Regions from separate parts of the Homo sapiens genome. Here region 2 is linked to region 1. Evidence: fine-mapped expression QTL. A gene starts in region 1. The other region holds a variant in brackets. All regions are shown on one strand. Distances are between the middles of the regions. Region 1 holds the start of GZMA (granzyme A). Region 2 overlaps CDC20B (cell division cycle 20B).

Region 1 (5,539 bases):
TTTTTAATAGAGATGGGGTTTCACCATGTTGGCCAGGCTAGTCTCAAACTCCTGACCTCATGTGATCCACCTGCCTTGGCCTCCCAAAGTGCTGGGATTACAGGTGTAAGCCACTGTGCCCGGCCTACTCTTTTTATTAATGTTTCCCCAAATTAGAGTATCTTTACAAACTTTTTTTTAAAAACCCAGGCACTTACAAGTTACAGTGAGCTGCAGTCAACACCCAGTCTTTTGCAATCAAAGCCCCAGCACAGATGGTTTTTCTGTCAAGACTAAGTAGGACCATGTAGGGTCTTGAATGAGGAGTTACTTCATTTCCTCCAATAATTTTTTCACAGACATCTGTTCAATGGAAAAAGACAAATCAGATTGGTGCTCACCCCCAAAGAGCTCTACACAAAGTCATGTTTCTAAGACCAGCCATGCTTTTTGCACTCAGAGAGGAAGTCTGGATGAGAGCATTTCCCCTGCTTTTACTCTATGTAGACCCGCAGACATCTGATGCAAATCCTATTCCTGTTGGACTCTAGGGTCCTGTTTTTCCACCCACAGAAGCGAGGCCATTGACTGTTCCAGGATCATTAGGCTGGATGTCACAAACCAGCAACCTCAGGCCCCAGGGCAGAAAGCTCTGCCTTGGTCTTTACCATCAACAGTTGCTGCAGGAAATGCCAGTGGTAGTGACAACCTCAAGTGCTCCCACCCTTTTTGGCTAACTATTAATTTGGGGGAAATAGATAAGACTTTTAGAAGCCTCATAACTTCCCTTTTAACCCCAAGCCATTGCAAAAATATAGCTTATGAACCGATATTAGCATCGTTTAGCTGTGACCCTACCCCTCAGTCCTTTGGTCATTATGAGACTTTTGGTTATTAAACTGCACTGTTCTCACTCATAAGTTAAGAAAATAACATCGATTGCACCTCCCCTTCAATCTCTAGACCAAACCATGGGGTTTAATCTAAGGTCTTTTCCAATGAGATAGGGAAGAGAAGAGAGAAGATACCATATGCCAAGAATTCTGCCTAAGTGACATTTCCTTGATGATAGTCTTGAAGTAGAGACCCATTGTTAAGGAACAGTGAGAACTAAACACAAGGCAAACCATACATGCAGATAGAGAGAACCTTATGTCTTAGTGATACACTCCGAGTGCTCCACCTCCTGCACCAGATGTTCTTGGATTCTCCCAAAATAGTTTTGCTGAGACTCATGGTTTCTTGAATAGGGCACAGTGCCTCTTGTTCCATAATTAGGACTAAGTCATTGCCAAATTCACAGGCAAGTATTAATGACAGCTATAGAAGCCTTTCGTAAGATTTGATGAGGGTAAGAGCAAGGAGGAGAGTGACCACATGAAATGTGGCTAGTGTGATTTGAAAAAGCAGAGGTCTCTGCTTTTAAAAAGGAAACTGGGAGGAAGAAATTCTAGGCTCTAGAAACAAAAGGGTAAAGAGCTTATAGAAACAAAAGACCTTCACCCAATCCCAATTTTCCTAGGGTGATTCATGTACAGATAGATTTCAACTGTGCCTTGCTTTGCTGTCTGTTCCTTATATGGGCCCACACTGCCCTCTCTGAACACAGGAAACAAAGAGGAGCACAGCAGGTTGCTTTTGTTGTTTTCCTTTGAAGAAAAGATATGGCTGGATTTATCTGCCCTGTGTTTTTCTGTTATGGAGGATTTAACATGCCTGAATATAGTCATACTATGCCCTGCTTATAACATAGCCAACCTTTGTCCCAAATGTCCTGCAGCCTTGTTATTTTTATATTTCTTCTCTCTCTCTCTCTTTTTTGTTTTTTTTTTGAGACAGAGTCTCGCTCTGTCACCAGGCTGGAGTGCAGTGGCACGATCTTAGCTCACTGCAGCCTCCAACTCTCTGGTTCAAGCGATTCTCCTGCCTCAGCCTCCTGCGTAGCTGGGATTACAGGCACGTGCCACCATACCCAGCTAATTTTTGTTTTTTTAGTGGAGACAAGGTTTCACCATGTTGGCCAAGATGGTCTCCATCTCTTGACCTTGTGAAACACCCACCTCAGCCTCCCAAAGTCTTCTCATATTTAGGTGCATAAACCAGATATGCACCTAAATATGATAAACCAGAGTTCTTTGGGAATTCCTGGCAAGGCAGGTTATTACATAAGTCCCTGCCTCCAAAAGCTGATGAATCCTGGGAAAAACCGTGGCTGGCTCCATATTGCCACAGCTTGAGAGTAGTCCTCACTTCCTAGCAGGTTCTTCAAGGGAAATCTAGAGCTCCCCAAGAGCTGTCACCCTTTCAGTGGTAATACCATGAATTATACAGCATTTTAACCCATGCATGCTCAACTCACACAAAAGCAGAAATATTGGTTACCATTTGGTAGACAAAAAATTAGCTTAATAAAAAATACTATAGCACACCCAAAGGGTTAATGAGGGAACTGGCCTCACGCCTTAATTTATTGCCAAAGAGTCTCTAGACCAGAGAAATAAGTATAAAAATTCTAATAATTCCTGATTCACTTTTGGTGTCTAGGTCAGATTTGTCTTAATTGTCTTTATCTATGCATTTTCTGCAGCAGGAAAGGCTGAGCTGACTAAGTTGCCACTATTCCTTTCCTGGAAGGTACTATTTGTTTTACGAACAAGAGAGTTTTGTTAACTCATTTTTACATTGTCCTTTTTGGCAATTTTCAAGTTACAAATTGGCAGCAATAAGCATTGGTGGTTCTGCTATCTTTTGCAAAATAATTATGAGAAGAAAAGATTTTTTTTTCTAAAATACAGACATATTTAAAATCCAAGAAAGAATGCTATTTAAAAAAAAAAAATAGAGACAGGGTCTCACTATGTCGCCCAGCCTGGACTCAAACTCCTGCGCTCAAGTGATCCTTCCACCTCAGCGTTCCTAGTAGCTGGGACTACAGGCATGTGCCATTGTGCCTGGCTAAACATTATAAGGCTTGGGGGAAAACATCTTCTTTCAGTATAGGAAGGTAATATTGCCAAAAGTTCATTGAAAGTCTGCTCCATTTTGCTTCATGGTCATAATGGAAATGAGAAGAATCAGTCTTACCTTCAGGAATTAGCAGGAGAGAAACGACAACTGAGAGAGAGGATGCCAGAAATCTATAGGAGTTCCTCATTGTGGCTGCTGTCCCACATCAATCAACCTGAAAATCTGTTTTCAGTTCTTAACTGCCTCTATCTATATACTGAGAGTAAAAAGGATGTGGTTTCCTTTCATTTTTTTTTTCAAGTTTCAAAGTTTAGCATTAGGAAACCAAATCCAAATAAGTGAGAATGGTGGATGATGGCTCACTGCCAGCAGGCAGGCTTTCCTTTGCTAGGACTGCTGAGGGGGGCGCTGGAATTCTACAGGGTAGGAGAGGGGCAAGGGACCTTGTTGCCATCAGAGTACACCAGGGAAGACTGTAAAGTGTCTCAGCTATGATTTTGAAGACGCTTTCATCATCTGCAATATTATCTGTAGTATCCATGACTGGAAACTCTCGAAGACTTAAATTAGAATTTTAATAAAAGTCCTCAAAATTGGTCACCAATCAAAATTCTTTCTAGCTGTCTCCTTGGGTTATATAAGAATTAGCAGGCCAAGTGCAAGCTGAGGACAGGAGGGAGATTTATTTACATAGAGGCTCCTGCCTGGATTTTCCTTCCCCACTTTGTGGTGAGTGTTTATTGTGCTCCTGCCTGGTCTGTGGCAGGTGTGGGAACATGGGCTGGAGGAGGGTAGGGGCTCTTGGCCCTTTTCAGCCCTCTGATTGTGCGTTCCTGATTGTCTAGTTTCACAACTTTAGATACTGAAAGTATCTCCGAGTTTCCCTCCCTCCCCGCCCCCCCCCGACCCCTGCTTCCTGCCTTTCTTCCTTACTTTCTTCTGAACAGGTTTAGGTGAGAAAAGAAGTGGGAGTCATTTTTGTTCCAATGTTGGGGAATGTCTCACTCTAAGAAGAGTCAACCTCAGTCCCTGGAGGAACAGTATGCAGTGTGCTTTCTATTTGAAATGAGTTCAGCTCTTTTTCTGAGCTGAGGATGTGGTCTCCGATACAATATACATGGTCAGATGTGCTGTCAGGATGTTGGGTACTGAACCAACCATCCCCATAGTTAACATCCTGATGACTTCAAACCTAGTGGTTACTTCTTTAGAAATCAAGTGACCTTAGAAGGGAGCCCTGCTGAGACCCCTGCATTTCTTTTTCTCAGATATTACAAGTGTATCAAAGGTTAATCATTTTCAGTAACAGCAGTGAGGACCCTGCTATTGGTTTTGGTGAGTAATTTTAGTGCAGACTTAAAAAAGTCAAATTGTAATTAACTACACCTACTGAAAAATTCTTAAAACATTGACAATTTTGTTTATTTTTATGTGAATGGTTGCTCTTCCATTTATGTTGACTTCTAACAACTTTATGAGACATAATTCACACACCATAAAGGTCACCCATTTAGAGTGTATGAGTCAATGGATTTTAGTATATTTGCATAGTTGTGCAGCCATTACCAGTACCATGCTGTTTTGGTTACTGTAGCCTTGTAGTATAGTTTGAAGTCAGGTAGCATGATGCTTCCAGCTTTGTTCTTTTGGCTTAGGATTGTCTTGGCAATGTGGGCTCTTGTTTGGTTCCATATGAACTTTAAAGTAGTTTTTTCCAATTCTGTGAAGAAAGTCATTGGAAGCTTGATGGGGATGGCATTGAATCCATAAATAACTTTGGGCAGTATGGCCATTGTCATGATATTGATTCTTCCTATCCATGAGCATGGAATGTTTTTCCATTTGTTTGTGTCTTCTTTTATTTCGTTGAGCAGTGGTTTGTAGCTCTCATTGAAGAGGTCCTTCACATCCCTTGTAAGTTGGATTCCTAGGTATTTTATTCTCTTTGAAGCAATTGTGAATGGGAGTTCACTCATGATTTGGCTCTCTGTTTGTCTGTTATTGGTGTATAGGAATGCTTGTGATTTTTGCACATTGATTTTGTATCCTGAGACTTTGCTGAAGTTGCTCATCAGCTTAAGGAGATTTTGGGCTGAGATGATGGGGTTTTCTAGATATACAATCATGTCATCTGCAAACAGAGACAATTTGACTCCCTGTTTTCCTAGTTGAATACACTTTATTTCTGTTTCTTGCCTGATTGCTGTAGCCAGAACTTCCAACACTATGTTGAATAAGAGTGGTGAAAGAGGGCATCCTTGTCTTGTGCCAGTTTTCAAAGGGAATGCTTCCAGTTTCTGTCCATTCAGTATGATATTGGCTGTGGGTTTGTCATAAATAGCTCTTATTATTTTGAGATACGTCCCATCAATACCTAGTTTATTGAGAGTTTTTGGCATGAAGGTTGTTGAATTTTGTTGAAGGCCCTTTCTGCATGTATTGAGATAATCATGTGGTTTTTGTTGTTGGTTCTGTTTATGTGATGGATTATGTTTATTGATTTGCATATGTTGAACCAGCCTTGCATCCCAGGGATGAAGCCAACTTGATCATGGCGAATAAGCTTTTTGATGTACTGCTCGATTTGGTTTGC
Region 2 (5,000 bases), 27 kb before region 1:
TGTCCAGAAAGACGTTGTGGAGATATTTATACTTAAGCTGGGTCTTGGAAGATCATTAGAACTTGGAAAGGTATAGAGGAGAAGGACCATTTTTGGTATTGTTAACAGCATGAAGAAGGCAGGATGTTGGTAATTAAGATATTTAATGGCAATGAAGAAGATACATTGGGGACTGGTGAATAGGTGGGTACAGATTATGGAGAAAAATTCAAATTCAGAAATTTAGATTTGTTTTGGGAGTTGTTGACTAAGAGAAACATCAAAGGAAAATTCATGGCAGAGTATGCAGAATGCACTTAGTAGGAAAGAGCTGCCAAAGAGTAAAGGCTTATTTTTCCTCCATGAAGAAAAGAAATGGGATGAGAAATGAATTCATGATTATTCCAAGTTTTTGAAGCAGGAGAAAGAAGGGTGGTGTCACTGAGAAGACAGATTGGCAGAGGAGGTGATTTGGAGAGGAAAGACTATGCTTGAATATTATTTTAAAGGAGACAATCAGACATAGAAGCAGTTTGGCAGATTATTTGAAACGAATGCTGGTAGTTGAAAGAGGATGGACTAGCCCGTAGGTCAGATGATTATGATTGAATCCAGGAGCCAGTGTAAGCTCCCTAGATGAGGGAGAGAGGAGCAGAGGGAAGGGGTCTGGGCTCCATGGAATATCTAAAAAGAGGCATGAGCTGGAAAAAGAAAAATCCCTGAAGGGAACAGTTCTCTATCTCCCTATTCCTTCAGCTCCTTCTCCAAGAGAATGTATTGTCATGACCAACTAAGAAGGATGGATTTTCAAAAAATGTTAAAAAACTGTTATATTAAAAAGAAACAATGTTTGTTCCCATTTTTCCTTTAAGCCACAGCCCTTTTTCTTTCTTTCTTTTTTTTTAAACAGAGTCTTGCTTTGTCACCCAGGCTGGAGTGCAGTGGCTCACTGCAGCCTCCGCCTCCTGGGTTTAAGCAATTCTCGTGCCTCAGCCTCTTGAGTAGCTGGGCGTGTAGCTACAGGCATGTGCACCATGCCTGGCTAATTTTTGTATTTTTAGTAGAGATGGAGTTTCACCATATTGGCCAGGCTAGTCTCGAACTCCTGACCTCAAGTGATCCGCCTGCCTTGGCCTCCCAAAGTGCTGGGATTACAGGCATAAGCCACCATGCCCAGACGCACAGCCCTCTTTCTTTCCTCCCTTTGACAGTACAACTTTCAAAAGATCTTTATACTTATAATTTTCTATTTCTCTCCCCATATTGTCTCAAATCCACTCTAGTCAAGTTTTAAGTCTCATCATTCAATTGAAACTACTCTTCCAAACATTACCAAAGAACTCCTCATTGTTATAGCCAACAGTTACTTCTTAGACTTCATACCGAACCCTAACAACTATATTTGAGACAGCTGATCAATCCCTCCTTCTTGATATCCCACTCTTTTGGGTTTTGTCCAAGAGTGTCTTTTGTTCACTCTTTCTCATCCTTTTTTGCTGATTTGTGTTTCTCTTCCATTTCCCTGACCTCTAAATGTTGGAGTACCCAAGGCCTGTTCCTTGGACATCTTTTCTTTTTTTACTTCTGTTCTATTTTAATTGATCTTAGCTTTTTGGCTATATCTCTTTGTATTGTGTTTTGTCGTCATTTTTCTAGGGATTACAATGTAATTTTAACTTTCTTAGTCTACGTAGAGTTACTATTGTACACATCACACAATATATAAACATCTTGCAATCACATAGGTCTCTCAAAGTCCCCACTACTTTTTAGGTTATTGTAGTTGTCATGTGTTTGTTTGTTTGTTATTGTTTTTTGAGGGAGGTTTTGAGGGAGGTTTTCACTCTGTCACCCAGGCTGGAGTGCAGTGGTTCAGGCTGGAGGCTGTAGAGGCTTACTGTGGCCTCTACCTCCTGGGCTCAAGTGATCCTCCTGCCTTAGCCTCCCAAGTAGCT[G/A]GGCCCACAGGCACATATCACCATGCCCAGGTAATTTTTTGATTTTTTATAGAGATGGGGTCTTACTTTACTCCTCAGGCTGGTCTTGAACTCTTTGGGCTCAAGTGATCCTCCCACCTTGGCCTCCCAAAGTGCTGGGATTACAGGTGTGAGACACTGTGTCTGGCCTGTCATGCATTTTATATTTACATACACTGAAAACCATCCAATTGTAAACGTTTTAAAATTTAAAAAGTATTTAAATAGCTTAAGAGGAAAAAATGGCTCCTATGTTCACCCAAATATTTACCAATTTCAGTGTTCTCCTTCATTTCTGAAGATCCAAGTTTCTCTTTCATATATTGTCCCTTTAGCCTGAAGAGCTTCCTTTAGCAGTTCTTGCAGATCAGGTCAGTTGGCACAGACTTCTGTTAGATTTTCCATCTTCCAGTTGATGAGATTTTTGCTGGATATAGAATTCTGGGTTGAAAGATCCACCACTGCCCCCTACCCCCAGCATTTAAAAGATGTTGTTCCATTGACTGTGGCCTCCATGGTATCTGGTGAGAACCCCATGGTCACCTTGTTATCCTGCTTCTAAGACCTGACTCTACTTACACATATGTTAGATTTTTGGATATTATTCCACAATTCGCTGAGGCTTCATTCTTTAAGAAATTTTTTCTCCACATTCTTTAGATTGAATAATTTCTGTTATCTATATTCAAGTTTACTCTTTCCTCTATCACCTCTATCCTGCTATTCAGTGTATCCAAGGAATTTTTCAGATATTATATTTTTCCATTTTAAAGTTTGTATTTTGTGGTTTTTGTATATTTGATTTCCATTTTAGAGCTTTGTTTTATGGTTTCTATTTTCTTTACTTAGAAAATACTTTTGATTTTTCTGTTTATCTGTTAAAGCTTCATATAAAGTTTCATATAAATTTTCATTCATTTCATGTGTGTTTTTCTTCACTTCATGGAGAATATAATGGCTGCTTTAAAGTCTTTGATAATTTCTATACCTAGGTCACCTTGGAGTTTTCATCTATTGGTTATGTTTTGTCTTTACATTTATCCAGTAATTTTGAATTGTGTCTGGATATTGTAGATGTTATGTTATAGTCACTGGGTCCTGTGGAGAATGTTGATGTTTTGTTCTGGTTGATGTTTTTGTTCTAGTTAGGTTCACATTTTAAGTTTTGTCTTGCCATTTGTGGGTGGTGTTTCAAATCTTAGATCAGTTTCTTAAACTTTGACCATGCTGGTTTGGGTCTGTATCTCATACATGTGGATCAGAGCCTAGGCTGAGACTTGTATGGATGTTTCAAATCTCAGTTCGTTTCTTAAAGCCTTTACTAAGGTGATTTGAGTCTCTTCTGCATGTAGGTGATTTAGGGGTAAGGCTGAGATGTGTGTGAATTAATATACTCACACTCAGAGGATCTCTTTCTTTTGGCTTTCCCATGTCTAGGACTTTTCCCTCATACTGGTATCAGTTCTATGCCTCAGGCTCTTTTCCATGGTTTCTCTGACCAGAAATATGGTGGCCTTTTTGTCAGAGTCTTCGCTGGCACTCCATCAATGGGGCCTGTCCTCAGGGCAAAGGTGTGAAAGAAGAAAAGTGGGAAACTTACCCCCCGCCAGTTTGCTTCTCCAAATTTTGACTCCCTTACTTAGTTTACTGCTTTTCCTTACTTTACAGGATCTCCAGGTGTTTGTTTTTTATATTTCATTCAGAGTTTATATTTATCATGGGGACGGAATGTATTGTAGGGGTTTAAACTACTGTAGGGGAACTGGTGTGCTACTTAGTTTTATACTGATACGTGTCAGTCAGGAGTTTCTGACTGATAAGAAATAAGATAGGGTATATTTTAATAAATGGTCATACAAATATGTTTTCTCTTAGCAGTCAAAGGTTTCTTATTAGTATAAGCTATAGAATACTGTTGAGAACGTGTAGGTATCATACATGAACCACCACCTCTTCTAGCTGGGTGGTGTTTTTGGTTAGAAATGATGGTGGCATCTCCCATATAGATATCCTAGGTCCAAGAGTGTCTCCATAAGAATTATATGCTTTTAACTTTTACTGATCCGTTAAACGAAGTCTACATGTACTAATAATGGTAGATGAATCTGCCAAGTTCTTTAAATGGCTCTAAATAAATATATTTCAGTGTAAATAATAAGCATTATTGCTTATTAGACTGTGAGTGTTGACACTAGATTCTATTCCACTTTTCATTTTTGAACTTTTAAGGATTTTCATGGTTCCATGTTTCCATTTTCCAGCTAACCATGGGGATGGTATTATTCTTTTCCCCCTACCTATAAAGTTGTTTATTTGAACATGTTTTCATGTGGCTGTATAATTATACTAATTTGAAGTGCTTTTCTTATAGATCTGAATATCCTAGATTGGAGTTTTCAGAATCTTGTTGCCATAGCCCTGGGCTCTGCTGTATACATCTGGAATGGGGAGAACCACAATGGGATTGAAAACATAGACTTAAGTCTCACTTGTAACTATATCTCTTCTGTGTCCTGGATAAAAGAGGGAACTTGCCTGGCAGTTGGCACCAGCGAGGGAGAAGTGCAAGTACTGGCCAGTTTTTTTTTTTCTCATCATGTTCTCTGTGTATTATTACACTATAATTGACTTTTAATAACAAGTTAATGTAAAATAGAGAAACTAGGTGTGGCTCTTGAAGTATGGGGAATAAAAGGAGATGACATTCCGCTTTTTTTTTTTTTTTTTTACTGAATGGTTTTTAATGAAAACGTAAGGATACTCTGGTTAGTTTCCACCACAATCTTTCTGTCATATTTAAAAATATATTTTCTCTGAAACTAAAGTTGGGCTTGTAGAATCTCCAGTTTTGGAGCTTTGGAGAGAGGAAGATACTTTCAGTTCTCCTTTTCACCTGAAGCCGTGATTAAGAGTACAGTTATAGAAAATGAGTGAATTTTTTTTTCTGATAGGCTCCTTGAGATGGGGATTTATCAAATTTCCATCAATCTATCTGATTTCTCATGTATCATTATTATTGTTTATTACCAATAGAATAAACAATATCAC

The links. PIP is the estimated chance that this variant, and not a neighbour inherited with it, causes the effect. A credible set is the group of variants that fine-mapping cannot tell apart.
Region 2: its variant is the best candidate, but not a certain one, in a credible set for the expression of GZMA in whole blood (INTERVAL, PIP 0.72).

What each region holds. Positions count from the first base shown.
Region 1 is chr5:55,100,277-55,105,815 of GRCh38, reverse strand. GZMA (granzyme A) reads right to left here and starts at 3,170. Exons shown (of 5, transcript NM_006144.4): 1 at 3,064-3,170; 2 at 198-342. The coding sequence starts at 3,133.
Region 2 is chr5:55,127,941-55,132,940 of GRCh38, reverse strand. CDC20B (cell division cycle 20B) reads left to right here. Exons shown (of 12, transcript NM_001170402.1): 7 at 4,324-4,520. Among named protein-coding and RNA genes, the nearest start is that of GZMA, 28 kb to the right of the region's middle. The variant G/A (reference allele first, on the strand shown) is at 1,935.